Linked DNA regions of Homo sapiens. The protein of the gene in region 7 purifies or fractionates together with the protein of the main gene of each other region. This does not show direct contact. Each region holds a gene or a part of one and is shown on either strand. Other genes may lie near its edges.

The links.
Region 1: the proteins of RAD51D (region 7) and MKS1 purify together in Homo sapiens (affinity purification with mass spectrometry; one large-scale study listed by BioGRID and IntAct). This does not show direct contact.
Region 2: the proteins of RAD51D (region 7) and ACOT7 purify together in Homo sapiens (affinity purification with mass spectrometry; one large-scale study listed by BioGRID and IntAct). This does not show direct contact.
Region 3: the proteins of RAD51D (region 7) and ANXA3 purify together in Homo sapiens (affinity purification with mass spectrometry; one study listed by BioGRID and IntAct). This does not show direct contact.
Region 4: the proteins of RAD51D (region 7) and PNPLA6 purify together in Homo sapiens (affinity purification with mass spectrometry; one study listed by BioGRID and IntAct). This does not show direct contact.
Region 5: the proteins of RAD51D (region 7) and NUP188 purify together in Homo sapiens (affinity purification with mass spectrometry; one study listed by BioGRID and IntAct). This does not show direct contact.
Region 6: the proteins of RAD51D (region 7) and PDPR purify together in Homo sapiens (co-immunoprecipitation; 2 studies listed by BioGRID and IntAct, with this or other methods). This does not show direct contact.

What each region holds. Positions count from the first base shown.
Region 1 is NC_000017.11:58,208,559-58,212,766, forward strand, and holds part of MKS1 (tectonic-like complex member MKS1), read right to left. Parts: intron 3,877-4,208; coding exon 3,820-3,876; intron 2,465-3,819; coding exon 2,422-2,464; intron 2,167-2,421; coding exon 2,101-2,166; intron 26-2,100; coding exon 1-25. UniProt on the Homo sapiens protein: Component of the tectonic-like complex, a complex localized at the transition zone of primary cilia and acting as a barrier that prevents diffusion of transmembrane proteins between the cilia and plasma membranes.
Region 2 is NC_000001.11:6,267,659-6,272,066, forward strand, and holds part of ACOT7 (cytosolic acyl coenzyme A thioester hydrolase), read right to left. Parts: intron 1-4,408. UniProt on the Homo sapiens protein: Catalyzes the hydrolysis of acyl-CoAs into free fatty acids and coenzyme A (CoASH), regulating their respective intracellular levels.
Region 3 is NC_000004.12:78,606,769-78,611,176, reverse strand, and holds the end of ANXA3 (annexin A3), read right to left. Parts: intron 1,122-4,408; coding exon 1,062-1,121; 3' UTR 730-1,061; downstream 1-729. UniProt on the Homo sapiens protein: Inhibitor of phospholipase A2, also possesses anti-coagulant properties. Also cleaves the cyclic bond of inositol 1,2-cyclic phosphate to form inositol 1-phosphate.
Region 4 is NC_000019.10:7,548,635-7,553,042, reverse strand, and holds part of PNPLA6 (patatin-like phospholipase domain-containing protein 6), read right to left. Parts: intron 3,137-4,408; coding exon 2,931-3,136; intron 2,746-2,930; coding exon 2,614-2,745; intron 2,527-2,613; coding exon 2,403-2,526; intron 2,050-2,402; coding exon 1,936-2,049; intron 1,682-1,935; coding exon 1,606-1,681; intron 1-1,605. UniProt on the Homo sapiens protein: Phospholipase B that deacylates intracellular phosphatidylcholine (PtdCho), generating glycerophosphocholine (GroPtdCho). This deacylation occurs at both sn-2 and sn-1 positions of PtdCho.
Region 5 is NC_000009.12:128,950,164-128,954,464, reverse strand, and holds part of NUP188 (nucleoporin NUP188), read right to left. Parts: intron 1,693-4,301; coding exon 1,619-1,692; intron 1-1,618. UniProt on the Homo sapiens protein: Component of the nuclear pore complex (NPC), a complex required for the trafficking across the nuclear envelope. Required for proper protein transport into the nucleus.
Region 6 is NC_000016.10:70,137,766-70,142,173, reverse strand, and holds part of PDPR (pyruvate dehydrogenase phosphatase regulatory subunit, mitochondrial isoform 1 precursor), read right to left. Parts: intron 4,088-4,408; exon of another isoform or gene 3,990-4,087; intron 3,276-3,989; coding exon 3,151-3,275; intron 1-3,150. UniProt on the Homo sapiens protein: Decreases the sensitivity of PDP1 to magnesium ions, and this inhibition is reversed by the polyamine spermine.
Region 7 is NC_000017.11:35,113,001-35,117,408, forward strand, and holds part of RAD51D (DNA repair protein RAD51 homolog 4), read right to left. Parts: intron 4,038-4,408; coding exon of another isoform or gene 3,859-4,037; intron 1-3,858. UniProt on the Homo sapiens protein: Involved in the homologous recombination repair (HRR) pathway of double-stranded DNA breaks arising during DNA replication or induced by DNA-damaging agents. Bind to single-stranded DNA (ssDNA) and has DNA-dependent ATPase activity.

The DNA.
Region 1 (4,208 bases), about 23 Mb from region 7:
TGCTGGAATGCTGGGCTTGACCAGTCTGAAAGCCAAAGACCAAATATAGTAAGCTCGCCTGGGAGGAAAGCAAGTCATTCAGAAAAAGACAGTTTCTTTTTTCTTTTCTTTTTTTTTTTTGTATTTATTGATCATTCTTGGGTGTTTCTCGGAGAGGGGGATGTGGCAGGGTCATAGGATAATAGTGGAGAGAAGGTCAGCAGATAAACACGTGAACAAAGGTCTCTGGTTCTCCTAGGCAGAGGTCCCTGCGGCCTTCCACAGTGTTTGTGTCCCTGGGTACTTGAGATTAGGGAGTGGTGATGACTCTTAAGGAGCATGCTGCCTTCAAGCACCTGTTTAACAAAGCACATCTTGCACCGCCCTTAATCCATTTAACCTTGAGTTGACACAGCACATGTTTCAGAGAGCACGGGGTTGGGGGTAAGGTTATAGATTAACAGCATCCCAAGGCAGAAGAATTTTTCTTAGTACAGAACAAAATGGAGTCTCCTATGTCTACTTCTTTCTACACAGACACAGTAACAATCTGATCTCTCTTTCTTTTCCCCACATTTCCCCCTTTTCTTTTTGACAAAACCGCCATCGTCATCATGGCCCATTCTCAATGGTCGCTGTCTCTTCGGAGCTGTTGGGTACACCTCCCAGATGGGGCGGCCGGGCAGAGGCGCTCCTCACTTCCCAGACGGGGCGGACAGTTTCTTTATTCATTTATTCACACAATCAATCATTCATTTACCATTTACTGAGTGCCTGCTATGTGCTAGTATATCTTAGGGGTATCTTGGTAACTAGATAGAAAAGATCCCCATCTCTCATGGAGCTGACATTCTGGGGGAAGCAGGGAGACAGACAAAAACCAAACCAACAAGAGACTATTGGGTAGTGATGAGTGCTATACTAAAAACAAAACGGGGAAGGGACTGAGTGATTGGGAGGCTCATTTAGACTGGGTGGTAAGAGAAGGCCTCTCAGAGGCGACACAGGCTGAGACCTAAACTCAGAAAGAACCAGCCATGCTAAGATATGGCAGAAAGGGTTTCAGACAAAGGAAACGGCCCTTAAAAGGCTACAAGGTGGGAATGAACCTGGCTGGGAAGAATGACTGGAAGGTTGTATGGAAGAGATAGGCAGGGGCCAGCTCATTCAGGGTATCAAGTTTACATTTTACTCTAAGTGGGAGGGGAAGCTGTTGGGGTTTTCAGCTCAAAAGGGACATAACTTGTTTACATTTTTTAAAGCTCAACTTGGCTTTGGTGTCTGTGGCAAATCAACGGCAAATGGGAGCAAGGCAGGAAGCAGGGGGATACATCAGAAGTTGAATGCACTGGCCTAGACAAGAGATGGTGGTGGCTTGGTGTAGGGTGCTGGAGAGAACAAATAGGTTCACAACAGCTTTTGAAGACAGAACGGACAGGAACTGTTGACAGATTGGCTGGCTATAGGGAGCTAGGGAAAGTGAGGGATCAAGGATGTTCCCTAGGTTTTTGGCATCAACAACTCAGTAGATGACACTGCCATTCTGTTAGGATGGGGAAGACCAGGGAGGAGAGGTTTGAGGGAAGAGGAGGAATCAAGAGTTCTTTTTGGTCATGTTAGACAGAAATGACAAAAGAGGTAACTGGATATGAGTCTGGAGTCCAGGGAAAAGGTTAAGGCTAGAGGCAGAAACCTGGGAGTCTGAGACGTATTGATGGTATTTAAGCCATAGGATGGATGACGTTGCCCAGGAAGACTGCAGACAGAGAGTAACAGAAGGCCTTGGCTTAGCTGTGGGTACTCTCACGGTTTAAGATCAACAGAAGGGAAGGCATCACCCAAGAAGGATGAGGGGCCACCAGCGAGATAGGAGAGAGAAGTGTGGAGCCAGAAGCCAGAGAAGTGTGTCATGCAGCACAGTGGGCTCTGGAAAATGCTTCAGGAAGGTCAAGCGAGGTGAAAGCAGGGAAGTCTCCACTGGGTTTGGTAAAGTGGATGTGATCTATGACCTTGAAAAGAACAGTAACAGTTTCAGCAGAGGAGTGGGAAAGGAAGCCTGACCAAATGCCTCTAGATCTGTCTGAATGGGTATAAAAGGAGAGACTTAAGAATATTACTTACGAGCAGTTGGCAATTCTACAAAGAAGTGGACGTAGAGATTGTCATACTCATAGCCTTGGGCTGAAACTACGAGAGAAAACAGGAAGCTATTTTAGCTTTTTCTCCTACCACCCTTAGCACCCAACCCAATCCTGAGGGGCCTACACACCCTGAGAGCAAGTCTTTTGAGGGCCAGGAACCCTCTGCGTTTCCAGGAAAGACTCACCACTGAGTTTCCCAAGTACAGCAGACAAGGCCTCTACCAGAGTGGAGGAGACTATTCACAGCTCCATCTAGGCACGTGCCTAAGCATCAAGAGATCTATGCTAGCAAGACACTTACCGACCTCTCCATTTACAAAGAGCCGGAGGGCACCTGGGACAGTCTAAGGTGAAGAGAAGTGGGAAAGGATCAGCAGGCCTGGAGGGAATTGGCACTTCTCCTCCAGCCCCATCTACAAATCTGCAGACGACCTGCCACTAGGGGTCAGGCCCTGGGTGTCACTACTGCACTTTCTCCCCACCCTGACACTTCTCCACAGATCTGTTTCCTTCATTCCTAAGATTCACAATGTAGGGGGAAAGTACATAATTTAAATGGCAGTGAGGACAATGCACTATGGGAAATTATTCAAGCAACAGCAACTGTCCTGTGGTGTGCAATGGGAAGCCAGAACGCCCTCTTCCCTTTAGATGGCTGAGGTCAAGAAACCAGGGAGTTTTCTTTTTTAATTATTTGTGCATGTCTTATCTAACTTTTAAATACTGAATATCTGTTGCTTATGCAATATGGAAATAGTGAAGGTTAATTTTTCAGAGAAAGAGAGGGAGACCAGGAAGTAATTCTATCCTTGTTTCCAGGTCTAGAGATAGAACTCTTAGAATGAGAAAAGACAAAGAACAGCACAACAGAATAGCTGAACTAAACCACTTTCTTTTTTTTTCAGACAGGGTCTTGATCTGTTGTCCAGGCTGGAATGCAGTGGTGTGATCATAGCTCAATGCAAACTCAAACTTCTAGGCTCAAGCAATCCTGCTGCCTCAGCATCATGAGTAGCTGGGACTACAGGTATGTATCACCATGCCTTGCTAATTTTTTTTTTTTTTTTTGTAGGGATGTGGTCTCACTATGTTGCCCAGGCTGCTCTCAAACTCCTGGCTTCAAGTGATCCTCCCACCTTGGCCTCACAAAGTGCTGGGATTATAGTCATGCGCCACCGCATCAGGCCTATATTTTTTAAGAGCCAAAATATGTGACAAACAGAAATGGCACCCCTGCCTCTCTATGGGGTATTTTGAAAAAATATCCACATGAAAGGTGAAGAAGACATTTTTCATCCTTATATTTATTTTTTAAATTAATTATAAAGTAATACCTAAATACATTACAACTGATAAAAATTCAAAGCTACCTAAGTTTAGGGAATAAAAAGCAAAAATCCCTAATATATCCCTCTCACCACCCACTACCCTTCTACCACATCTAATCCCACCCTCCCCAGAGAAAGCCACCCACAGCATGTGCATAGCCTTTCAGACCTTTTTCTTAGCATTAACAGTTCTCTATCAACATGCAATGTTGCAAAACACATAACAAGGACTATATGTGCTATTCTTTGACTTCCTTTTCACACTGTAGAGTATACCTTTGGGCCTTTAAGAGAGGTAGTGTAACTCATCCACAGTCAGAATGCTCCGGCTAAACACAGCTCACAGTGCTGCAGGAAGCCAAGCTACTCACCATCTCAAAGTCGGTGCCTACGAGGCTGCTGAGATACTCCTTGTGCCGGCCATAAAGCTGAGGAAACAAACCAAACCAAAACTCAAGATGCAACCCAAGCTAGACCAAAGTTCAGTTCTGAATGGGAAGAAGAAAAGCAATAGTGGGAAGGGTCAGCAAGAGCTGGAGGCGTAAGCACCTGACTCACCGCCATTTTACCGTGAAGCAGAGGCCCTGGAGTCAGCTGGTCTGGGGCAGAATCCTGACTCTCGCCCTTACAAGCTATGCCACCTTGGGCAGACTACTTAGCTCCTCAATCTCGGTTTCCCCACTTATAAGGTGGTAATAAGTGTTCACCTCAAAGGGTTGTTGTAAAGACTAAAGGAAATAAGGTATGTAAAGTACCTAGC
Region 2 (4,408 bases), on a different chromosome or scaffold from region 7:
CCTTTCTCAAACTGAGCTGGCCAGGGATCCCTTTCATAAGGAACCAAGCTCTGCCCCGCCTCTGGGATGGGCTGCTTCAGGCAGAGGCTTGCCCACCTTGGGACCCAACCATGCTGTGTGCCCTTCCTGGGATGGTCTCTTCATTCCGCCTGGAAACCAGCCCAGCATCTTCAACCCTGGAGCCGGGTGTGAATCCTGATTCACCACTGACTCACATCGACTCCTCTTTTGTAAAATGGGCCAATGTCCACCTCACAGCAGAGTTGCGGGGACCAAATTTCTCCCTGCAGCCCATGTTCAACCAGGCATTAAAAACAACACAGTGAAAGAAGCCGGTCACAGGGTCTGCCTATCACCCATTTACACGAGATGTCCAGGAGAGACATATACACAGAGGCAGAAAGTGGATTGGCGGTTGCCTGGGGCTGGGGGACCAGTGGTGGCTAAGGGGTGGTGCTTCTTTTTGGTGAGATAAAAGGTTTTGAAATAGACTGTGGCGGGGGATGTCCACCTCTGTGAATAGAAGAAAACCTGCTGAATCGTATCCTGGAAGTGGGTGAACAGAACGGCATGTAATTACATCTCAGTAAAGCTGTTAAAAGAGAAAACCTCCACAGTTGAGAGCTCTCTGTGGTGGGGGAGTAGTCAGGGCTGTCAACGCATAAGACTGGCCCTGAGCTAATAACTACACAGGAATTCTTTCTTCTCTTTACTTTTGCGTATATTTGACCTTTTCTATAATTAAAAAGCTAGAAAAGCAAAAAACTAACTAGACCTAGATCTAGGAAAACCAGCCCCTCCTTTCTTCCCTAGGCACCAATGATCTCCAGGCCCCAAAGAGACGGGGACTTGGCTTTACAAGCGGTGGGCTGCGGGCAGAGCTGAGGGAGCCGTCTGGGCTGTGCACAGGCGCGATTTTCCCCACTCCCCGCCAAGAGGCGCTAAGAGCTAACTCAGGACCATGCTCCTTCTGGTCCAGTTCATAGGTGTGTGATGGGCCCCAGGCCCCACGCACGCGGCACGGCCCGAACGGCAGGGAGATCTCCGCCCAAGAGCGAGAAAACCTCCAGGGCTTCATACAGCCCGGTCCTCACCTCTGCCAGCCACACGCAGCAGTGGAGCGGAGCCCTCGAGTCCCCTAACGATCTGGCCTCCATGACCACCTGGGAGTGGAATAGGAGTAACTTCCTACAGCTCTCGGCATCTTTACCAGAGATGTGACCACAGCCCTCCAGCCGCCGAGGGCGTGGGAGGACCACCCAACTCTGGGTCTGCAGAAGGCACTGCAGACGAGAGCCCTCCCACCCCTTTGCCCCCACATGGGCTGTGCACGTGGGGCAGGGACTACAGCGATAAGGGGATATTCCCTGCGCAACCCATGCTTAGGGCGCGGCAGGCTGTGCACATCAGGGTCTTCCCAACAACCCCACCAAGCAGCACAGAAATGATTGTCCACTTTTACCAATGAGGAAGTGAAGCACAGACAGGCTGAGTAACTTGCCCAAAGTGACACAGCGGGTAAGGGGAGAGCCTCCATTTAAACCTGGGCATGGGGGCTGCCCTCCAGGTCGTCCTATGCCGAGGGACTTTTAGGGGTGGGACTCGTCCATGGGAAGTGAGGAAGGCGATGGACCTGCAGCGTGTCCACGATGAACCAGGGTCAGGGGCTTCCCTGCCTCCCCTCACCTCACCCCGGCCCTCGGCACAGCCTAGGAGCACTTGCTGAGCTTGGCCTCCCCCAGGCGGGGGCCCTGCCCTGCCCTCAGCCATATTATCCCAAACCACTACAGCTGCTCCCACCCCAGCGGCCACCAGGCCATCGAGCATTCCCAATGCCACAGGCCGAGGGCTGTGACTGCTTCTCTCGAGGTCAGTTAATACACAGCCTGAGGCGGGCACGAGCCCAGGTGCAGGTCATTCTCAGGGTCGGCTCCAGGCTGAGGGAGAATCTGGTGCCCAGCAACGGGCCCCAAGGCGGCTCTGATGTGGCCCTGCTCTTTAATATTTGCAGCAAACTCATCAGCCAGGCTCTGCCCTCAGACAAAGCAAATGCTGTCTGATGATGGATGGATGTGTGGGAGCCTGAGAGCCTGTGAGGGCCCCACTGCTCTTCCCGTCTCCCGGGATGGTAGTATCTGCTGGATGTTCCAGGCTCTGAGACAGAGTCCAGACCAGCCCAGGAGCCTCAACGTCACTGCGTGGAGTGCCCGCCCATAAGCGCTGCCCTCCCAAGGTGCGGGCGGCCTTCCTCCCTGAGTGCCCAGGGGCGCCCTTCCAGGGTGAAGGTTTATGAAGATGGCAGTCAAGGGCAGGGATGTCCCAGGTGCCTGAGGACCCAGGCTCACCACCCAGGGGGAGGTGGAACAAAGGGCCGCGGGGCGGTGTCTGTCCCATGGTAGGTTACGGGCTCACTGCTGGTGGGCAGCCAGCCTCCCCAGGTCATGGCTTTGCTAAATAGTTCTCCTACCCAAGTGACAAAGGGGCCACCCTGTCCCGCTGGGTGAGAAGCTGACAGAGCAAGACAGATGTCTCCAGCACAAGGCCCCACCCACGGCCCGGCTGCTGCCTCCTCGCAGCCATCTCCCTCCACCCAGCAAAGTAAATAAATGCATACGCTGTTGGCTGTTGCTGTTTTTAATGGAGGGTTGGGGGTGGGTGGAGGACGAAAGAACGCTCTGCGGGAAGACAGATGTCTCTCTCAAGTCCCCGAGGCTGCTGGTGGGGGAAGGACTGGAGCCTCTGGGGCACTGGCCAGTGGTGCCAGCTGCCGGGCACCCACCTGTGGCCTCAGGCAGGCTCCTCCGAGCCTCTGGGGCTCCCCAAGAATATGCCAGAGAGAAAGGATGAGGTGGCAAAGGGCAGCTCAGGGCACATGACCCCCATGTATCCCGGGCACCTGCCTGATGGAAGGGATGGGGCAGCATGGCCAGGAGCAGGACTCTGAGTCCCACGGGCCCAGCTGTGTGGCCCAGGGCCAGGTTTGTTCACCTGGAAACAGGAACTCAACAAAGTGACATGGCAAAGTGCTTCCTATGGTGCCGGTGCACGTGAGCTCCTACGTGTGTGTGCACATGTGTCTGCGGTCCCTGGTGCATGTGTGTGTGTCTGTGTGGTGGTCCTGCTGTCCTCAGAAATACCTGAGGCCAAGTGCAGCCTGGGAACTGCTCCAAGGACTGTCCTGCTGGTGTGTGGCTGCCCCAAAGGAGGGCCAGATGGCCCGGGGTCACCTTAACGCAGCGGGCCCTTTAGGATGTCACACCCACACATGGGGACGCAGGGGTGGGGAGGGTCCCAAGGTAGCAGGTTGACAGTACGCTCCCTCCCTGGTGCTCAGGGAGCACCGCCTGGCACTCAGCACCAAGCCCCTGGCTCCCCTGCAGCCTAGTGGCTGCCTGGGCCTGGGGTCTGCATCTTTTTCCTCCCTCCACTTAGTGCTTCCTGCCACTGCTGTCTTCTGGGCTCTCTTCCACTGGAGGGGAAGCCTGTGGCTTTCAGAGCCAAGTGCTGCAAACCAAATGTTTTCCACTTTGCATTTTCTGTGCTTGGAGAACACACATTTGGAACATGGTATGGAGGACGAGTGACTAAGTTCCACCCTCGGTAAAATCAATAGCTTGTCCTTTTTGTAATTAATGAATGGCGTAAAAAGGGTTTCCAGTGGTGATATAACAACTTCCTGTAAGCCTGAGGGACACAGACCTTCTTAATTAGGAAGCCACGTAGCATGCCCTCTCCCTGTTATAACAGGAGACAAGAGGGGTCTTGGGATAATCACAAAAGCAATGAAAACATCTCATTATTGAGGACACTCAGCACGGCCGGGCGAGGGGCCTTGTGCATGGAGAAGCCAGCAATGATGAGCTTAGCACCAGGACCACCAGCCTCACAAGCACCTGTGCCCCCAGGGTCTTGCTCCACCTGAGGACCTTGCCTTAGCGGAGCCTGTCCGCCATCCGCTGTGGCCTCTCCGCCATCCGCTGTGGCCTCTCCCAGCAGCTGCAGGCCTGGGTTAATTACCTCCTCCTCCACACCCACCCAGGACTGCACCAGCCTCCAGCAGAAAGCAGCCGGAAGTCTCAAATAATGAGATCATTGTGGAGAGTCATAAACACCCTCACCAGGGGCTCCCCTCACCCAGCAGCACCGGCTCAGACTCCGAAAGAACTGCCCCCAAGTGGGGCCAAGAAAGGAGGCGTAAAGGCCAACGGGAGGCTGCTGGCGGAGGCAGGGAGATCGTCACCACAAAGGGGAGAAAAGGCATTGGGACTTGGGCCTGGGTGGTGGCCTCTCAGGAGCCCCTCCTGCAGGCACGGAGTGCCGTGGTCCCGGGACGCTCGGCTCACAGCTCTTGTGCCGGAGTGTGGACATGGCGGTCCCCACCCTACAACACCAATAATGATCATAGCTG
Region 3 (4,408 bases), on a different chromosome or scaffold from region 7:
CCTGACTCAAGCAATCCTCCCACCTCAGCCTCCCAAGTAGCTTGGACCACAGGCATGTGCCACCATGCCAGGCTAATTTTTGTATTTTTGGCAGAGACAGGGTCTCACTAGGTTGCCCAGGCTGGTCTCAAACTCCTGGGCTCAAGCAGTCCGCCTGCTAACCTCCCAAAGTGCTGAGATTACAGGCGTGAGCCACTGCACATGGCCAGTACGATCATTTCTATTCTGGTCCAGGAAAATAACTCTAACTGGAATTTTTTTCACTTTATCTATTTCATATCAGTCAAGGTATTTCATATTAGGTCCCACTCAAAGATGGCATGATGGATTCTTTAAATGCATAGTTTTGCCAACTCAAGAGAAAAGGAAACCTTAGAGGCTTGATTCTAAATGCCCATTCTGGGAAAGTAGTATTTAGCATGAAGCAACCATAATTCATGCTTGCCATTCAGACAGGAAGTGGTTAGATTAATCCTTCAGCAGATGTTTTCTGAAAGCTGAAATAACTTATCATGCATTACCACTCCTATAGCTTGATCACAACTACAAAGGGTAGGCCAGGGTCACATACATCTTCATCTTATTCCTTTCTTTCAAAAAAGTGTGATTAACAAGGTGATAAACTGAAGCAGTAACAGCTTCTATACAGAAACATGTTTTAAAATATTAGTTGTTGGCACCAGGCATCAAACAATGTTGGCAAGCTCTGAAAGCAAACAAAGAAATTACTTTTAACAAAAGCAACAATTTTTATTATCTTGCTTTATATTTAATGGAGTAGAACTATAAAGATTCTTAACTTTGAAAGCAGAAATATAAGTTGGATAGTAGTTGCAGATCTTTAATACCATTTTCAATTTCATTTATGAGCTGCTACATTATAAATGAGATGCTCTAAAATAATAATCGCTTTTGTTGTTGTTGTTATAGAACAATGAAAATTCCTGTTAGGAACACAAGTTGCTGTTTATATTTGCTTGTTCTCTTAAATAGTATGAGAAGAAGTAAGGTGGAGCTGTTGGGAAAGCCCATCGTGGACCTTTGGAGATTATCTTCTTGGTTCAGTCATCTCCACCACAGATTTTTAAGAGTGTGATTTCATAGTCTCCAGAAGTATCCGACTGCAAAGAATAAAATCAATGAAGAACAAATACAGTATAAATAATGGGAGACCATAAATGAATCAAATCCTATAGCACTAGGGAATTCACCTGGGTGTGAGACTCATGAGCTATACCATTTAGTAAAACATACCTGCAATTCCATCATTCATTCATACCTGAGTGTAATTACGTTCTGACCAGCATCTTCTTCACTGTAAGTAATATTTAGATTCTTCCTGATATACTGCAGTTAAATTTCAATTTTGGTTTAATAAAATAAGATTGCATCACTTACATAATATTGATTTCTATAAAAACTTCAAATTTTAGTTTTAATAATATTTATCGAACACTTGCTATTCAAAAGGCTTAATGTGTATTAACTACTTTAACCCTTTTAAAAGCTCTCTGCAATAGGTACTATACGTATCCCCCATTTAACAGATAAGTAAAATGAGAAAGACAGGTTAGGAAACTTGCCTCAAATCTTATCGAGAATAAGTGACAAAAGCAGGATTTGAATCCCTATATCCTGGCTCCTTAATACCCTGCTACACTGCCTAACTTAGGAAAGTGAAATGAACCACATTTTTAAAGAATATGTTTATCAGTTCCTTTTCCCAAGGCCAACCAAAAATAGACTGTTGTCCAGAAAAGATACTACGTGAGGTTGAGGCTTAAAGGGCAAAGATACCAAGTTTGTAACGCAAAAGACTTCACAGGAGGTAAAACTTGGCTTTCAACCTGGATTGTGTAAGATGCTCACATTATTTTTATTTTATTTGAGGTAACCCAACCAGTGAGCTCTTCTTATCACTTAAGTTTCACATTTGGAATGGCTGTTACTGGGGTGAATATTAGAGAAAGTGGTAATATAAAGGAAGTCTCAGAGAAGGCTCATTTAGTGAAGAAGTTAAGCATTACTTTCATAGTAAGACACAATAGGCCTTTATATATATTTTTCTGTTTTCTTTATTTCTTGTTCATTTGTCTGTTTCACAAAATATATGACAATATTCTTCGTTTTTATATAGATTTTAGTTCTTATGCTATTGGTTTTCCTGTCTTGCTCTGCAATAGCAGAGCTGACAAGTCAACAATGCTCCAGCTTTGTATTAAAAGAGCTCCTTCTAGACATCTCTGATCAGAGTTGTAAACAATTAGGCGTTCTACCAGTTAGTCAAGAAAATACATCCAAGTAACTCAAAGTATATTTACACCGCTAATGACTTACTTGACCTCTCCACATGTCTTACATGGCTCAAAGACATCTCAAACTCAATACATGTAAAACCAAACTCATAAACCTCCCCCCACTCCCCCAAAAGAAAAGGAAACAAACAAACAAACAAACAACCTAAAACCTGATCCTCTTGCAAGGAATGGCGCCACTGTCTGTTTTCCAAGTTAGGAACTTGAGTGTCATCCTTGCTATCTTCCTTTCCTCACACCAAGATATTATACCAAGTCCCTTAAGTTTCAACTCCTAAATATCTTTTGAGCCCTTCTTATTCTCCAGAATAAGAAGATCTTACAGGGATCTTTTCATGATCCTGATACTAACTCTTCAAGAGCTCATGCCCAGAACTCTTCAATGGCTTCCCCTTACTCTTAAGCTAAAGCCAAAATTCCTTAAACATTGCCAAAAAGGTCCTGCATGATCTGGCCCCCACATCCTCATTTTTCATTATGCTTCCTCCACCATGAGGCCTTTCCATTTGTCATTTCTTTTATTAGAATGTTCTACTGGCTCCCTTACCTCCATACATTTTGCCTTATTAATATCTACTTATTTTCCAGATCTGAATCATGACTTTCTCATAGAAGCCTTTCCTCTAAGTCAAGTCCTACTATTGTAGGATCTTTTAGCACAATGTCACTTTCCTTTACATTTAACATAGTTGTAATTCCATAAGGGCAGAAAATGTCTTCCCCCACCCTACCCCCTTTGCTTATAATTGTAACCCTGAGCCTAGCACATAATATGCATTTGATAATATTTTTAATTGAATGAGTGAATTCGCTGATCTCAAAGCTCTCTTTCAACTGAACTCATCTTGCTACTTGGATTTTATTTCTCAATATTCCCCAAGGTAGACCCTCTAATCAAACAAATGCCTTATTACTTCTTTCCCTCTTGCTTCTTCCCATATCTGTCTCTAGAGCATTTACTTTTAAGACCCTATTGATCTGGGGTCTTAAAGGTAAATGCTCCAGCAGAGCACCTGGCCCACAGGAGACACTCAACACATGCTTGTTGACCTGAAAGGCAGGCTCAAGACCCATTTCTCTAACCCCAAACTTCTTTTCTTCTCAATTCCGATAGTACTAGCTCTATATTCAACAATCTAGTATTTAATTGTCTGTTGTTTCAATTATTATCTTCTAATTGTTTCTTCATACCTACCTCAAGTCTCCACATAGATTATGAGTTGATTGTGAGTGGCTACTATATTTTCCCATAAAAAGCTTGGAATTGTGCTATTTATTAAATAAATACAGAATTTGTCTATGAAGGAAAACTACCAAAAAATATAATTTCATCTAAATTTTCCATAATATCTTCTTATAAAGTAGTAAGAGGTACACATTGGTTTTTCACCTCTGTTCTTCCTTGCCTTCTCCTTCCCACCGGTTACCCCCTGAGAAAGGTGTCAATGGACAAAGAAATGTCTAAACAATAGGTGGAAGGAAGAAAACAGGCAGGATGACAGGCTGAGATGATATGCAAAATGGAACTCTATCCCATGAATTTCAGAAACAACCATCTAAAAAGATCCTGTTCTTCAATAGCAAAAATGTAATGAGATTACTTAATAATATGTGTTAGGTGGTAGAAATAAAGAAATCTTGTACTATTTCAAACTGCAAACTGAAGTTTTCAGTGATGGATTTTTCTTTTCTATCAAACTACAAATAGTTTAAATGTTTTCTAATACAATAAGCCTCAATTACCCAGACCACTGGGGAACGGAGAGCCACTGGTTAATTTAATTTTCTGGTTTGCTGAGGGTGAACTGAAAGCCCTCTTTATGTCTCAACCTTGTTACTGACAATCTTTAGAAAATGTGTGAGTCTATTTTTCTGCCTTAGTAGCTACAACATGGTTAATGTTATTGAATCTTCCTCTGATGATTGAAACTATTGTGATGTGTCAGGACTGATTCAAATAGAATTGAGTGTGAGCAGTTGATGCAATTTGTGCTAAGTCCCAGGCACAGTCTGAGAATTGCCTTTTTGAGTAAGTTCCTGATTTCAACTTATGCATGCATCTCAGCATCTCTTTCTGTAAAAGTTTAGTGCAA
Region 4 (4,408 bases), on a different chromosome or scaffold from region 7:
ACCCCCCAACCCCCATCACCTCTCCCCTTGATCGCTTTCCTCCTCAGTGCTTCAAAACCACCAGCCTCCTGTGCAGCACCCCTGGTTTCTCTTTCATGTCTGGCCCCATCTTAGTTGTCAAGTCTCAGCTCACTGTCCTTAGAAAAGCCTCTTTCTCCCTCCCTTCCTCCCTCCCTCTTTCAGCCACACGGCAAGATGACCCTCTTTTGTCTTCTAGATATTGTATTCTCTATCTGTAATTTCTTTCCTTTTCTTTTCTTTTTTTTTTTCTTTCTTTTTTTTTTTTTGAGATGGAGTTTTGCTCTGGTTGCCCAGGCTGGAGTGCAATGGCGTAGGCTCGGCTCACTGCAACCTCTGCCTCCCCGGTTCAAGCGATTCTCCTGCCTCAGCCGTCCAAGTAGCTGGGATTACAGGCACCCACCACCACACCCGACTAATTTTTGTACTTTTAGTAGAGATGAGTTTCACCACGTTGGCCAGGCTGGTCTCGAACCCCTGACCTCAAGTGATTCACCTGCCTCAGCCTCACAAAGTGCTGAGATTACAGGCGTGACCCACCGCCCCAGGCCTCTGTAATTTCTTAATGATGTCTTTTCTGCCACTACCGCCCTGCCCCCGCCTTGGGGGATCTAGGGCTCAGGGCCAATTGGGTAGAACCCCTGGAGGGAAAAGGGGTATCTAGGTTGCTGGGCTGGCCCAGAATCTGGCCACCACAATGTAGAAACTCAGGCCCTCATTTCAGCAGGCCTCCAACCCCACCGCACGCCCCATTCTGTTCTAGCTCACTGAAGCCACAGGCTGAAACAGGGGGCTACATCTCCCAGCAAGCTGTAACTTCAGAAGGCGAGGTGCCCAGAGTCCTAAACAACAATCCACAGACTATTTTCCATCATGGTATGGGGAGTTTTGTTTGTTTGCTGTTTTATTTTTTCTGAAACAGGTTCTAGCTCTGTCATCCCGGCTGGAGTACAGTGGCACGATCACGGCTCACTGCAGCCTCGACCTCCGGGCTCAAGCAATCAATCCTCCCGCCTCAGCCTCCTGAGTGGCTGAGACTACAGGCATGTGTCACCAAGCCCAGCTAATGTTTGAAATTTTTGTAGAGACGGGGGTCCTACTATGTTGCCCAGGCTGGTTTCAAACTCAATCTCCTGGGCTCAAGCGATCCTCCTGCCTCAGCCTCCCAAAGTGCTGAGATTACAGGCATGAGCCACCATGACGGCCCTGCCATCATATTCTGATCTAGGACTCCCTTTCTCTCAACGTCCAGGCCGTGGACTTCCCCAGCAAGCCCTGACTCCCGGGCAGACTACGCCAAGTCCACCGCCTAAGACTCCCTCCCCGGCACCACTGATTTACTTTCGAGCCCATTAACTAGCACGCCAGGGGTCGAGGACTTCGTTTCCCAGCATGCTCAGGAACACGAACTCCATTCCCCAGAATGCTCTGCACCTGGGTCCTACTTAGGGTTTGAAACCCTCAGGGGCACGATTTCTTCGCGGAACTCCATTTCCCAGCATCCCTCAGGAAAGAAGGCTTCCCTCCCAGCATGCTCTGGACGCCGGACTACATCTCCCAGCACGCTCTGGGCCGGCCGGCTCTCACCTGGGAAGGGTCCTTGCAGCTGCTGCAAATTCCCTAGAATTTTCTGGCTCAGTAGGTGGATAAGGCGGGTCACGACCTGGGGGCGTTGGAGGCCGGCATTTCAGTGAGACCTGGGAAGCGGCTGTCCAGGTCCCACCTCTCCCTCCTATGCCGGGGCTCCTGGGTGCCCGTTACCTGGGTCCCACCCCCGAGAGCCCCCGCCCTCACTCTCTCGCTTCGGCCCCTCCCTCGACCCCGCCCCTCTGTAAGCCCCGCCCACACACTAGGCCCGGCCCCCACCCCCCCGGAGTCCCGCCTCCGCCTCTCTGCCCCGCCCACAACAGGCCGCACCTGCGGGTACCGGCGTTTGATGTGACCCAAGGTGCCCTCGGGAAGCTTGGCCAGCTCCGTGTCGCGCACCGCGTGCACCGTCGTGGCTCGCGGCTGCCGGGTCAGTGCCTCCACCTGGGGGGCCGCGTGCATGATTGGGGCTGCTTGGGTGGGGAATGAGGAGGCCGAAGATGGGTGGAAAGGGGGCTGTACTGCCCCATCTAGGGCTCCCCTGCAATGGGGGTGTAGGGAAGCAAGCCTCGCTCGCTACCCATTAGAGCTCTGGGGAGAGGGAGAGGACAGGGATCCACGACAGGCGGAATCCCCTTTTTCCAACGAAATGAGGTCTGGGCGGGGAGTGGACTGGGTGACCTCAGAGGTCGGGAGCTGCATTCACCACTCCCTGGATTACCCGGGATGATGTGTGTGAGTTGTCGAGGGACTGGCCTGGAAAAGGCCAGAGGTCAGTGGGTGGGGGTCGCGCTCACCACGCCGATGAGGTCGCCGCGGCCGTACTCGCCCACCAGCTCCTTCTTGCCACTGCCTCGCTGGATCACGCTACGCAGCCGCCCATTGAGCACGATGTAAGTGCAGTCGGAGCGGTCGCCCTGCCTGAGTGGGCGTGGAGGTCAGCAAGGTCTGACCACCCCCAGGTCCCCACCCCTAGGCCGGGCCTGAGCAGCGCGGTGGGAGCTGCACCTGTACAGCGCGCGTCCCGCCTCCACTGCAGTCCAGTCGATGGCGAAGTCCATCTGGCGCACGAAGGGCGACATCCTGGCTGCCACCGTGTGCGCCGCACTCAGCACCACACTGGGCTGTGCGCGCATGATCCTGCAGGAACAGACTTGGGATGAAAGAGGAAGGCCTCAAAACCGTCCTACACCGGCGCTGGGAGGCCAGATCTGGGGGCTCCCTTCTGCTCTTCCAGGAGTGAGGTTGAGGGATGGGGTTCTGGCCACTCCCACGGGTTGGGGTCCTCCGAGTGCCACCCACACTCCAACTTCGGGCTGTCATACTCATAGAAGTCGGACTTGGAGATCCGCAGGAAGGTGCAGTCGCGTTGGGCTCGCAGTGTGAAGATGAGAGGTTCGCCAGTGAGCACCGCCAGCTGCCCCACCAGTTCCCCGGGCTGCGCTACGAACAGGCACACGTCCTCCGCCTTGTCGATCATGCGCTGGTACACGTGCAGGCAGCCCCAGAGCACGAAGTGCAGGCTCACGTCCTGTGCGGGCAGGGGATGTGATGAACACAGAACCCGGACAGCGTGGACCCCAGCTCAGGTCAACATGCCCCCACAGGAAAAAATTAAAGAAGAAAGGAAGGGTTAAGAAAAATATGAAGGCGCAGGGCGCGGTGGCTCACGGCTGTAATCCCAGCGCTTTGGGAGGCCAGGCAGGGGGGATCACTTGAGGCCAGGAGTTCGGCACCAGCCTGGCCAACGTGGCGAAACCTGTCTCTACTAAAATAAAAAAATTAGCTGGGCGTCGTGGCACATGTCTGTAATTCCAGCTACTCAGGAAGCTGAGGCAAGAGAATTGCCTGAACCTGGAAGGCTGAGGTTGCAGTGAGCTGAGATCATGCCATTGCACTCCAGCCTGGGCGACAGAGTGAGACACTGTCTTTAAAAAAAAAAAGAAGAAGAAGGCCAGGCGCGGTGGCTCACGCCTGTAATCCCAGAACTTTGGGAGGCCGAGGCAGGCGGATCAAGAGGTCAGGAGATCGAGACCATCCTGGCTAATACAGTGAAACCCCGTCTCTACTGAAAATACAAAAAATTAGCCGGGTGTGGTGGCGGGCGCCTGTAGTCCCAGCTACTTGGGAGGCTGAGGCAGGAGAATGGCGTGAAACCGGGAGGCGGAGCTTGCAATGAGCCAAGATCGCGCCACTGCACTCCAGCGTGGGCGACAGAGCGAGACTCCGTCTCAAAAAAAAAAAAAGAAAAAAAAGAAACATGAAGGAGAGAATAAAGACTTTGGATATAAGCACCATCTATATATAAATATAAATAAATATAAAAATATTTTTTAGCCGGGCGCGATGGCTCATGCCTGTAATCCCAACACTTTGGGAGGCCTGAGGCAGGCGGATCACGAGGTCAGGAGATCGAGACCATCCTGGCTAACACGGTGAAACCACGTCTCTACTAAAAGTACAAAAAATTAGCCAGGCGTGGTGGCGGGCGCCTGTAGTCCCAGCTACTTGGGAGTCTGAGGCAGGAAAATGGCGTGAACCCGGGAGGAGGAGCTTGCAGTGAGCCGAGATCGCGCCACTGCACTCCAGCCTGGGCGACTGAGCGAGACTCCGTCTCAAAAAAAAAAAAAAAAAAAGAAAAATTTTTTTACATAGATTATATATAGATGAGCAGCATCTCTCTCTCTATATATATATGTGTGTATATATATGTGTGTGTATATATATATATATGTTCCATATACCCAGGATTCAACCAACCTTGGATCTAAAATATTCAGGAAAAAAAAATTGCACCTGCGCA
Region 5 (4,301 bases), on a different chromosome or scaffold from region 7:
TGCAGTGAGCCGAGATCGTGCCACTGCACTCCAGCCTGGGCCACAGAGCGAGACTCCATCTCAAAAAAAAAAAAAAAAAAAGACTAAGACATTGTCACAGCGGGCGCCTGTAGTCCCAGCTACTCGGGAGGCTGAGGCAGGAGAATGGCGTGAACCCGGGAGGCAGAGCTTGCAGTGAGCCGAGATCGTGCCACTGCACTCCAGCCTGGGCCACAAAGCGAGACTCCATCTCAAAAAAAAAAGACTAAGACATTGTCACAGCTAAGAGGAGACTACAGGCACTTGACAACTAGGTTGGATCCTGGAACAGAAAAAAGATAGTAAAGAAAACAATAGGCTGGGTATGACGGCTCACGCCTGTAATCTCAGCACTTTGGGAGGCCGAGGTGAGCAGATCACTTGAGATCAGGAGTTCAAGGCCAGCCTGGCCAACATGGTGAAACCCCATCTCTACTAAAAATACAAAAATTAGCTGGGCGTGGTGGCGGGCACCTGTAATCCCAGCCACTCGGGAGGCCAAGGCAAGCGAATCACTTGAACCCGGGAGGTGGAGGTTGCAGTAAGCTGAGATGTGACACTGCACTCCAGTCTGGGCGACAGAGCAAAACCCCATCTCAAAAAAAAAAAAAGAACAGACACTGGAATGAGACCACCAGGGTCAAATCCTGGTTCTATCACTTAGTAGCTGTGTGACCATGACAAGTTGCTTAACCTCTTTGTGCCTCAGTTTCCCCACTGGTAAAATGGAAACAATGATAAGGGTACCTAAATGTGATAATATAGAGATTATCTTTTTAAAAAGTCCATGTATTTTAGATACATAGTCAAGTATTTGCAGATAAAATAACAAGGTATCTGGGATTTACTTTAAGGTAATTACAGGGGAAGAATTAACAGACAGATGAATAACAAGGAAAAGTTCATCGTTAACCTAAGAGAATGAAAATGGAAGGTAAAGATGTAATACATTCAAAAGCAGTACAAAAGTAGAAGGGAAATGAGGGTGACTTAGACTATAACGCATAATAGAATGAGATCTGGACTAGGAATCAAGATCAAATAAGCCCAGCCCTACAAGCTGCATTCTCTTTATTTGCAACTACTTTATATTTTATTACTATGTTTTCCACTACCCAATAAAAAGATCTATATATTCACCCAAAGAATAAAAGTAGTAACTATCTCAAAGGGGTGTTGTGGGGATTAAATAACTTTTGATAAGTCAGGTGCTTAGAGTATTAATTGTTACATAGTTAACACTACACAAGTGTCAGTTGTTAGCATCATCCTTCACTGCTATCTCCCACCAATTAGTACTCACACAGACACTGTGGACTCTGAATAAATATTAGAAAATTCGTTGAATGTTTAATAAATTCTCATCCCCACACATAGGTCATAATTATATTCTACAATACTGTATTTCTAGAAGGAATTTCCTTTTCTTTCGGTCAACAAAAAAACAAATGTACCCTACTGTTTTCCACTGGTAAACTAAATTGTATTATCTCTGGTATACATAACCCTACAATATCATCAAAGCACATAGAAGGATGGTTTTATCCATGTCAGCTTCCTTAGGACAATTACTTTAACCAGACACCCGGAACTGCCATACCTGGGAGGTTTGTAGTAAGAAAGCCCCTCTAACAATCGCCGCCAATGTTTATTCAGTTCTGCCTCAATCTGACTCTGGAAAAGAACAAGGTAATTATACAAATGCAGTATTTTTTTTTTTTTTTGAGACAGAGTCTCACTCTATCACCCAGGCTGGAGTGCAGTGGCACCAACTTGGCTGACTGCAACCTCCGCCTCCCAGGTTCAAGTGATTCTCGAGCCTCAGCCTCCCGAGTAGCTGGAATTACAGGTGCCAGCCACCACACCCAGCTAATTATTGTATTTTTAGTAGAGATGGAGTTTCACCATGTTGGCTAGGCTGATCTCGAACTCCCCACCTCAAGTGATCTGCCTGCCTTGGCCTCCCAAAGTGCTGGGATTACAGGCGTGAGCCAAGGCACCCGACCGCAAATGCAGTTTTTTGTGCTTTCTTTTTTTTTTTTTTTTTTGAGACGGAGTCTCACTCTGTTACCCAGGATGGAGTGCAGTGGCGCAATCTTGGCTCACTGCAACCTCCGCCTCCTGGGTTCAAGCAATTCTCCTACCTCAGCCTCCTGAGCAGATGGGACTACAGGCGCACGCCACCATGCCAGTCAGTTTTTTTTGTATTTTTAGTAGAGATGGGGTTTCACCATATTGTCCAAGCTGGTCTTGAACTCCTGAACTCGTGATCTGCCCATGTCAGCAAAGTGCAGGGATTACAGGTGTGAGCCACTGCGCCCGGCCCAAATGCAGTTTTATTAATAATCAGACTCGGCCAGGCATGGTGGCTCAGGCCTGTAATCCTAGCACTTTGGGAGGCCGAAGCGGGCGGATCCCCTAGGGTTGGGAGTTGGAGACCAGCCTGACCAACATGGAGAAACCCTGTCTCTACTAAAAAATACAAAATTAGCTGGGCGTGGTGGTGTATGCCTGTAATCCCAGCTACTCGGGAGGCTGAGGCAGGAGAATCACTTGAACCTGGGAGGCAGAGGTTGTGGTGAGCCGAGATTGCACCAATGCACTCTAGCCAGGACAACAAGCACGAAACTCCGTCTCAAAAAAAAAAAAAAAAAATCAGATTCCAGAATCACACTAAGTATTACACATTCCTTTGAGTGTTTTTAATATGCATTTTTCCCCAGAGTTGAAATCATTTTGAATACAGAATTCTGTAACCTTCTTTTCTTTGCTTAACATTATAACATAATGACTTAACCTTATTATGAAAGTCTTGATAAACATACTTTCAAGTTGCTGCATAATACTTGTATCAAGTTGGTAGATCATAATTCATTTACCATTCCTCTAATGTTTGATATACTTAAGCTGACTGTAATTATTTAATAATATAAATGATGTTGTGGTGAAGTTTTCTTTGTTGTTTTTTGAGACAGGGTCCTGTTCTGTCACCCAGGCTGGAGTGCAGTGATGCAATCATGGCTCACTGCAGGCTTGATATCCTGAGCTTAAGCGATCTTTCCACCACAGCCTCCTGAGTAGCTGGAACTACTAATACAAGCATATGCCACCAAGCCTGACTTTTTTTTTTTTTTTTTTTTGAGATGGAGTCTCGCTTTGTCACCCAGGCTGGAGTACAGTTGCGCGATCTCGACTCACTGCAACCTCCACTTCCGGGTTCAAGCGAATCTCCTGCCTCAGCCTCCCGAGTAGCTGGGATTACAGGCATGCACCACCACACCGGGCTAATTTTGTATTTTTAGTAGAGACGGGGTTTCTCCATGTTGAGGCTGGTCACGAACTCCTGACCTCAGGTGATCCGCCCGCCTCGGCCTCCCAAAGTGCTGGGATTACAGGCGTGAGCCACCATGCCTGGCCAAGAATCTTTCTTAGGTTGAGGTAGAAGAATGGTATTTGCACCCCTACTCTCAGCAGCCAAGCAATGAACACAGGTATCTTTTCATAAAAGGAATCAATGAAATACAAAGGTAGATTTAAAAGACTTCAGCAGCTAGGCTAGGTAGTCTCATTTCAGCAAAGAAGTAGGGAATGCGTAATGTTTATAAAGCTTTTTGCTTTTTTGAGCTGGGGTCTCGATGTGTCTCCCAGGCTAGAGTTCACTGCAGCCTCAACCTCCCAGGATCAAGCAATCCTCCCACCTTGGACTCCTAAGTAGCTGGGACTACAGACATGCACCACCATGCCTGGCTAATTTTTTAAAAAATTTTTTGTAGAGACGGGGTCTTGCTATCTTGCCAGGGTTGGCCTTGAGCTTGTGCACTCAATTGATCCTTCTGCCTTGGCCTTCCAAAGTGCTGGGGTTACAGGCATGAGCCACTGCATCTGACCACGTTTATAAAGTTTTAGGAACAAAAAAAAAGTGTTTATACCAGGCACAGTGGCTCATGCCTGCAATCCAAGCACTTTGGGAGACTGAGGTGGGCAGATCACCTGAGGCCAGGAATTCAAGACCAGCCTGGCCAACATGGTGAAACCCCATCTCTACTAAAAATACAAAAATTAGCCGGGCGTGGTGGCATGCATCTGTAATCCCCAGCTCCTTGAGAGGCTAAGGCAGGAATCACTTGAACCCAGGAGACAGAGGTTGCAGTGAGCCAAGATCGTGCCACTGCACTCCAACCTGGGCGAGAGCCAGACTCTGTCTCAACAACAACAAAAAAACGTAGCCGGGTGTGGTGGCTCATGCCTGTAATCCCAGCACTTTGGGAGGCTGAGGCAGGCAG
Region 6 (4,408 bases), on a different chromosome or scaffold from region 7:
CATGTCCACTAGACTCTGGAGTTGTTTCTATTCAAAAGAGCTTTCCAGGCTAACGTAGTTTTTTTTTTTTTTTAAGACGGAGTTTTGCTCTTGTTGTCCAGGCTGGAGTGCAGTGGCACAATCTCGGCTTACTGCAACCTCTGCCTCCTGGGTTTAAGCGATTCTCCTGCCTCAGCCTCCCGAGTAGCTGGGATTACAGGCACGTGTCACCGTGCCACACTAATTTTTGTATTTTTAGTAGAGACAGGGTTTCTCCATGTTGGTCAGGCTGGTCTCAAACTCCTGACCTCAGGTGATCTGCCCGCCCCAGCCTCCCGAAGTGCTGGGATTACAGGCGTGAGCCACTCTGCCCGGCCCAATTTCCAGGCTAATGTAGTCTAATTTTCAAAATTACCCAGTGTATCAGGCATGCTCCAGAAGGAAAAGACAATCCTGCCAAGCTGCTATCGTCCCTCCCTGGAGCTACGTGTCACGGCATGACTCGGCCTGTATTCACATTCAGCATTCCACATTAGTAGGTAGAAATGATGGCAGAAAGGTCAGGGTCCTAAACCTTACCAAGCTTCATAGCAGAGAAGAAGGTTACTAAGTGGGACACAGGTGGTAACAAAATGTGAAAAAATGGCATTCGATTCTTCATTGTGCCTGTGTTAGGATCTCAGACCTGTTACAGACATTTCCTCCCTGATAATTAACTCACTTCTGAAGTGAAAGGGTACATATTGCAGCTTGATTAGGTGGCTCTGAAATCTGAGAAGTTATATTGTATTGTACCAATGACATTATTCACACAACAAAGCTAGGGTCAGAATTCATTTCTCTTAGGCCGGGTGTGGTGGCTCACGTCTGTAAACCCAGCACTGAGAGGTCGAGGTGGGCGGATCACGAGGTCAGGAGTTCAAGATCAGCCTGACCAATGTGGTGAAACCCTGTCTCTACTAAAAATACATAAATTAGCCAGGCATGGTGGCAGGCGCCTGTAATCCCAGCTACTCGGGAGGCTGAGGCAGGAGAATTGTTTGAACCCAGGAGGCAGAGGTTGCAGTGAGCCGAAATCACGCCACGGCACTCCAGCCTGGGCAATAGAGCAAGACTGTCTCGGAAAAAAAAAAAATTCATTTCCCTTAAGGTCTAATCTTCAACAGCAATAAGTAAAAAAAGCCAGAAGAGTGTGATCTGTGGTCCCTGATCTCACACCATCCCAAACAAAAGGCACATCAAGGCTTGGGGAGGTTGGGAGACAGGAGAAGGAAGCCAGGTGGGGTTCTCTGCATGGTGACAATCTCTCCATCTCCTAGTACTTTCGGTTCTATCATCCCCTCCCCCATTTTCTTTTCTATTTTTTTTTTATTTTTTGTTGAGATGGAATCCCTCTCTATCACCCAGGCTAGAGTGCAGTGGTGAGATCTTGGCTCACTGCAACCTCCATCTCCCGGGTTCAAGTGATTGTCCTGCCTCAGCCTGCCAAGTAGCTGGGATCACAGGCACGTACCACCACATCTGGCTAAATTTTTGTATTTTTAGTAGAGACAGGGTTTCGCCATGTTGGTCAGGCCAGACCTCCTGACCTCAAGTGATCCGCCTGCCTCAGCCTCCCAACATGCTGGGATTACAGGCTTGAGCCACTGCGCCTGGCGCCTTCCCCATTTTCTATGTGCCTGCCACTTCTATTTCATGAGAATTGGCTACCAAAAGTGTCATATCACCAAGCAGAAGCTCAAGCTCAATTATGATTTGTACAGGTTCCAAAGTAACTATGGGTAGGGAAATTTAGGCTTATAATAGTTCAACTTTAAAACAAAAAACTTTGATTTTGTATTTTATTTTTTTGAGACAGGGTCTCAGTCCCACTGCCCAGGCTGGAGTACACAGTGGCACCATCATGGCTCACTGCAGCCTCAACTTCCCCAGCTCAGGTGATTCGCCTACCTCAGCCTCCCAAGTAGCTGGGACTTCAGGTGTGTGCCACTAGGCATGGCTAATTTTTTGGTTTTGGTTTTAGTAGAGACAGGGTTTCGCTACGTTGCCTAGGCTGGTCTCAAACTCCTGACCTCAAGTGACCTACCTCCCTCAACGTCCCAAAGTGCTGGGATTACAGGCATGAGCCACCACACCCAGCCAAGTTCAACATTTTAACCAAAATATTTGCTAAAATTAAAGAACCTTAGCAGTTAAACATATTGCTGTTAGGTCCTTCATCTCCATGGATGTACATCCTCTTCCCAGGCCAAAAGTGAGCACTCAGGCATTAAAGGCCATCCAGAGTCCTCACCAACAATGTTGTTCAACTACCAAACTAACAGTTTACTTGCAACCAAGAATGGTGGTCAGAGCCAACACAGAAACTTAGTCCTGAGCATAAGTATGCCCAAAATATTTAGATACCATTTGGCAAAGTCTGAGAACAGCTCCTCAGTACAGGAAAATGAAATTACAACTTGAACCCACGTGGTTTGGTTCAATTCCTGATACAAAAGCTTTCTAAGGGCTTCCTAGAAAATAAATCAGAGATCAAGGTAGAATAACAAATTAAGATGAAGTGGCCAATCCTTCAAAGTTGAAGCAGGGCGAGAACACGGGAGTGAGAGCAGGAATGTATGTTTTGTATTTATATGGGAAGTGGCTCCCAATCTTGCTGCTGTAGGGTGGATTAATGGTGAAAGTCACTCACGGAAGCCTGAAGCTCTGAGAATAACTCGGCAAATTCTCTGACTTGGAAAGAAAAAACTAAGTGGGGAGTGAGAAAGCATTTTCTCAAAAACTAAGTGGGAGTGAGAAAGCATTCACTTCGACACAGGGTCTCTCAAGGCAGACTGCAGAAAGCACGCACTTCGACATACGGTCTCTCAAGGCAGACCGGGAAGAAGGCATTGCTTAGAATATTTATGAAGCTGCTATGTACCAACTGTAACTCCTATTCTATTTTCTTGTTCTCAGAATGAAACAAGGTCCGATGCACTAAAGAAAATGTTACGTATATATCATGAGGAGCATAAAGCCCCTTAACTCAGGCCTGAAACAGTCAAATCAAATGCCCAACTCAAAGCACTTGTTAAAGAACTGAGGAAAACTTTGCTCCTTCTGAATGACAACACGGGCCACCGAGAAGATACCTGCAACTAGGAGCAACTGCGATAAAGCTTCACTTACGCATGACTTCCATGACCCGGTGGCGCAGAAAGGTGCGGCTGCTCTGGAGGGCTCCAAAACGTTTCAGGTCCAATTCCCAAACGTTTTCTGAGGGATAACCATGTACCATCCATTCGGCAAGGTACCTATATAGACAGAGGGCACGTGTTGGGGCTCAGGTGTGAGATTTGAGAAAATTAATATTCTACAAATCGAGAACAAACAGAATCAAAAGATCCTAAATTGCCATAGACCAGCTGAATAGTTTTGGGCACTTTCCTTAACTTTTCTGGAAGAAACGAACATGGGTCTGTGTACTGCTCTCAAAAGACTACTATGAGGATTTTACCCCAGATGATAAGATTCCCTAGGAGGTATTTAACATAGAAGCCAGCCAGACACATTGGCTGATGCCTGTAATCCCAGAACTTTGGGAGGCTGAGGCAGGAGATTGCTTGAAGTCAGGAGTTTGAGACCAGCCTGGGCAACATAGTAAGACCCCGTCTCTACAGAAAAAAAAAAGTTTCAAAGTGAGCCAGGTGGCTCACACCTGTAATCCCAGCACTTTGGGAGGCCGAGGCAGACGGATCACTTGAGGTCAGGAGTTCGAAACAAGCCTGACCAATGTGGAGAAACCCTGTCTCTATTAAAAATACAAAATTAGCCAGTGTGGTGGCACACGCCTGTAATCCCAGCTACTACGGAGGCTGAGGAAGGAGAATTGCTTGAACCTGGGAGGCAGAGGTTGCAGTAAGCCTAGATCACGCCATTGCACTCCAGCCTGGGCAACAAGAGCGAAACCCCAACTCAAAAAAAAAAAAAAAAAAAAAAAAAAAATTAGCCGGCGTGGTGGCACATGCCTGTAATCCCAGCTACTCGGGAGGCTGAGGCAGGAGAATCACCTGAACCCGGGAGGCAGAGGTTGTGGTGAGCCGAGATTGTGCCATTGCACTCCAGCCTGGGCAACAAGAGCAAAACTTCGTTTCAAAAAAAAAAAAAAAAAAAAGAGCTGGGTATGGTGGCACACGCCTGCAGTTAGTTCTAGCTCTTCTGGAGTCTGATGCGGGATGATCCCTTGAGCCCAGGAACTTGCGGCTGCAGTGAGCTATGATGGTGCCACTGCACTCCAGCCTGGGTGAGAGTAAGATCTTGTTTCAAAAAAGTTATAAGCCTCATCTATGAAGAAATAAGACTAAAACACATACAAATATACTCTAAATATCCAATGGGTTTTTTTCTGTCACCTAAAGATTATACAGTTACGTGACCACATCTCCTT
Region 7 (4,408 bases):
GACTTGGGATAAACCTCATGACATGCCAATTCCTAAACCAGGTTCTCTCCCTCAACCACATGAAACAGGTCACCACCTACCCTCCATGCCCTGCCCTATCTCTAGGCTGAAGTTTCTTCTATGCCACGGCCTGTACCAATGCCTGATCACATGCGTACCTTTCCTAGCCCTACAATCACCTTCCTAGGTTCCAGTCCTTGAGATGGTTCTTGATGACCTCCCATGACCTCTCTGTATATGCCGAACAGCACTTTAGTAAGCATCCCATCCATTTTTTTTTTCTTTTTGAGACGGAGTCTCGCTCTGTCACCAGGCTGGAGTGCAGTGGTGTGCTCTCGGCTCACTGCAACCTCCGCCTCTCGGGTTCAAACAATTCTCCTGCCTCAGCCTCCCGAGTAGCTGGGATTATAGGCACCCACCACCACGCCTGGCTAATTTTTGTATTTTTAGTAGAGATGGGGTTTCGCCATGTTGGCCAGGCTGGTCTCAAACTCCTGACCTCAGGTGACCCACTCGCCTTGGCCTCCCAAAGTGCTGGGATTATAGGCATGAGCCACCGTGCCTGGCCCCCAACCATTTTAATTCCAGGGACTCCCCATGATTATACCCACAGGTTCCTGCCAGTCAAAACACTCTGGTTACCACTCTAGCCCTGTGGCTTCTTGAGATAATTGTGCTCACCCCATCTCTGTTTAATAAGTATCCAGCCTCTACCACTCCTGATTCCATTCTTCCCATTGAGATCAGAGGAACCCCAGTGTGGTCCCCAGACCAGGTGCATCAGCAACCTTTAAGGACTAGCTAGAAATGCAAATTCACAGCTCCGCTCCCCAAGACCTACTGAATCAGAAACTCTGGGAATGCAGCCCACACTTGAAACTTGAGTTTCAACAAGGCCTCCAAGTGATTTTGAAGCCTGCTCAAGTTTCAGAACCATTAGACTAGAGTAGTTAGTCTCAATCCTGCCTGCACATTAAAATCAGGGGAGTTGGCTGGACGCAGTGGCTCTCGCCTGTAATCCTAGCACTTTGGGAGGCCGAGGCGGGTGGATCACGAGGTCAGGAGATCGAGACCATCCCGGCTAACACGGTGAAACTCCGTCTCTACTAAAAATACAAAAAATTAGCTGGGCGTGGTGGCGGGCGCCTGTAGTCCCAGCTACTTGGGAGGCTGAAGCAGGAGAATGGCATGAACCCGGGAGGTGGAGCTTGCAGTGAGCCGAGATCGCGCCACTGCACCCCAGCCTGGGCGACAGAGCAAGATTCCGTCTCAAAAAAATAAAATTAATTAATTAAATAAAATAAAATCAGGGGAGTTTTTTAAAAAATGCCTATGTCAGCAGTACCCAAAGTTGTCTGCACATTGGATTCACCTGGGAGCTTCAAAAAAATACTGATGCCTGGCCAGGCATGGTGGCTCATACCTGTCATCTCAACACTTTGGGAGACAGAGGTAGGATTGCTTGAGCCCAGGAATTTGAGACCAGCCTTGGCAACACAGCAAGACCCCTGTCTCTACAAAAAAAAAAAATTTTTTTTAATTAGCCAGGCATGGTGGTGAGCACCTGTAGTCCCAGCTACTTGGGAGGCTGAGGCAGGGAGACTGCCTGAGTCCAGGAGTTCAAGGCTGCAGTGAACTATGATTGTGCACCACTGCACTCCTGCCTGGGCAACAGAGCAAGACCCTGTCTCTAAAAAACAAATTAAAAAATTAAAAAATACTGATGCCTGTGTCCCACTCACAGTGAATGAGATTAATTGGTCTGGGGGAGACTTGGACTTCGTAATGTTTAAAAGAGTCCTCAGGTGACTCCAATGGGCACACAAGTTTGGGAACCACTGACCTAGACTAATTAAATTAGAATATATAGAGTTGGGACCAGAGCATGAATATCTCAAGTTTCCCAGATGATTCTAACGTGCAGCTGGGGTTGAAGCACTGGTGTTGACTCTAGTCAAGAATCAACCACATCCTTGGCTGTGGAGATCAGTCTGTATAAGGTATTCCCAAATCCACCTTCCAGCCAACTTCTCACCTGAGTTTCCATTCCGTGCCTCTCCGACTGCCCAGAGAACCTTCCTACCAATATGTCCCCATCACCTTTAACTCCGCATGTCAACAGGGAGAGACCCCTGTCTTGCCCCATGAAGCAGAAGTACACCTGGGTTTTACCACTGCCTAGAATACAGGTGATTTCTGGGACTTATCCTCTGCCTTTCCCTCTGAACTGCCTTTTAGCCATTCTTTCAGTCATCCATTCACACACCACTTCAATGCCTCATATTTCCTGACAGTCTTATTCTAAAATGAGGGGACTGTGGGATGAACAGACCTAGCTCTGGCCTATAAGGAATAATCAATCTCCCTCATCAACATAGCTTTTCCCAAAGTACGTTACATGCTATAACACCCTGTAAGGAATCATTGCACCTCAGCACTAAAGGTTCTGAGGCGGCCTACAACAGAGAAACCTGTTTAATTTGGATTAGTCAGGCATTTCTCAAACTTCTGACTACAGAACTCCCCTCCTCCCAAGTTTTAAAGTTACACCATTAACTGTCCACAGCACACGGTAAGAAAGGCTAGAGACTGGGCATGGTAGCTCACGCCTGTAATCCCAGCACTTTGGAAGGCCAAGGCGGGCGGATCACGAGGTCAGAAGATCGAGACCATCCTGGCCAACATGGCGAAAGTCCATCTCTACTAAAAATACAAAAAATTAGCTGGGCGTTGATGGCACGCACCTGTAGTCCCAGCTACTCGGGAGGCTGAGTCAGGAGAATCACTTGAACCCTGGAGGCGGAGGTTGCAGTGAGCCGAGATCACGCCACTGCACTCCAGCCTGGCAACAGAGTGAAACTCCGTCAAAAAAAAGAAAGAAAGAAGGAAAGAAGGAAAGGAAGGAAGGAAGGAAGGAAGGAAGGAAGGAAGGAAGGAAGAAAGAAAAGGAAGAAAGGAAAGAAAGAAAGAAAGAAAGAAAGAAAGAAAGAAAGAAAGAAAGAAAGAAAGAAAGGCTAGAAACCTGGTGAGTCAGCTTTGATTCTTCACAATACATTCCAAACTCCGACAAAAAAAAAAAAGAAAGAAAGAAAGAAAGGCTAGAAACCTGGTGAGTCAGCTTTGATTCTTCACAATACATTCCTCCTGGTAGTAGGTCTTGTCACAGTTCCTCTTCAACATGTCTCCCACTGTTCTAGACTGGACTCACATACCCCAGGCCAGCACTGCCAGGGCCCTGCTTGGCCTCTGCCACCCTTCCACCCTGCACACCTCTACCCCACTGTCTATAACCCTGCTTTCACAATGGCCTCCCGCCTCCAGGGAGACAGCCGGGCAGATGAGTTAAGAGCCGCGTTCTTAGACTTAGGAGTGTGACAAGCATGAACTCAAATAACTGGTCTGCCGTTTGCTAACTGCACAATCTTGAACAAGTCATTTAACCTGAGTCCCAATTTCTTCACCTATAGAATGATGATTTATTTTTATTTTATTTTATTTTATTTTATTTTTTTGAGATGGAGTCTTGCCCTGTTGCCCAGGCTGGAGTGCAGTGGTGCGATCTCCGCTCACTGCAAGCTCCGCTTCCCGGGTTCATGCTATTCTCCTGCCTCAGCCTTCCGAGTAGCTGGGACTACAGGCGCCCGCCACCACGCCCAGCTAATATTTTGTACTTTTAGTAGAGACGGGGTTTTACCGTGTTAGCCAGGACAGTCTCGATTTCCTGACCTCATGATCCGCCCACCTCAGCCTCCCAAAGTGCTGTGATCACAGGCGTGAGCCACTGCGCCCGGCCTAGAATGATGATTTAAACAGTAACATGCTCATTGGTGGTTGTGACGAATAAATGAAATAATGTACCGTGAAGTGCTGACCGCAGTGCCTCGTTCATCGAAAGCATTCAGCGAAAGTCCATCTGTTCCTCCATGCCCAAGTCCTGCCTTCTTCAGAGCATTCCTGACCCCACTCCACGATCTCCCTGCGGGGACCTGAGGCAGCTGCAGTCCTCCCAGGTTCCCACTTGAGTGCGCCCTCCATGTCTGTTGGATTTATAAACTCCCTAAGCCCAAGGCCAATCGGCTTCCTGTTCACCACTCCCTCCTTACCGTTGCCTCCCTCGGTGCTTACAGCTCTCTTGTATTCACTTGATTTTCCCCTACACCCAACTAGAGGCCTTAAGGGCAGGGGCCTTGCCTCATTCGTGTATGTATCATCTGCACATACCAAGCACCCAGCAGGCCCTTAGCCAGTGCTTGATGGATCACAGACTCAGACCCCCAACCAGGGAAAGCAAGCACCACACTGCATGAACCCTGCCAAGAGAATGTGTTAAGGAAACAGAAAGGGCCACACCAATCCAAAGACCTTTATGGTGGCAGTTATTCATCAATTTCTGAACAAACAGACCAGG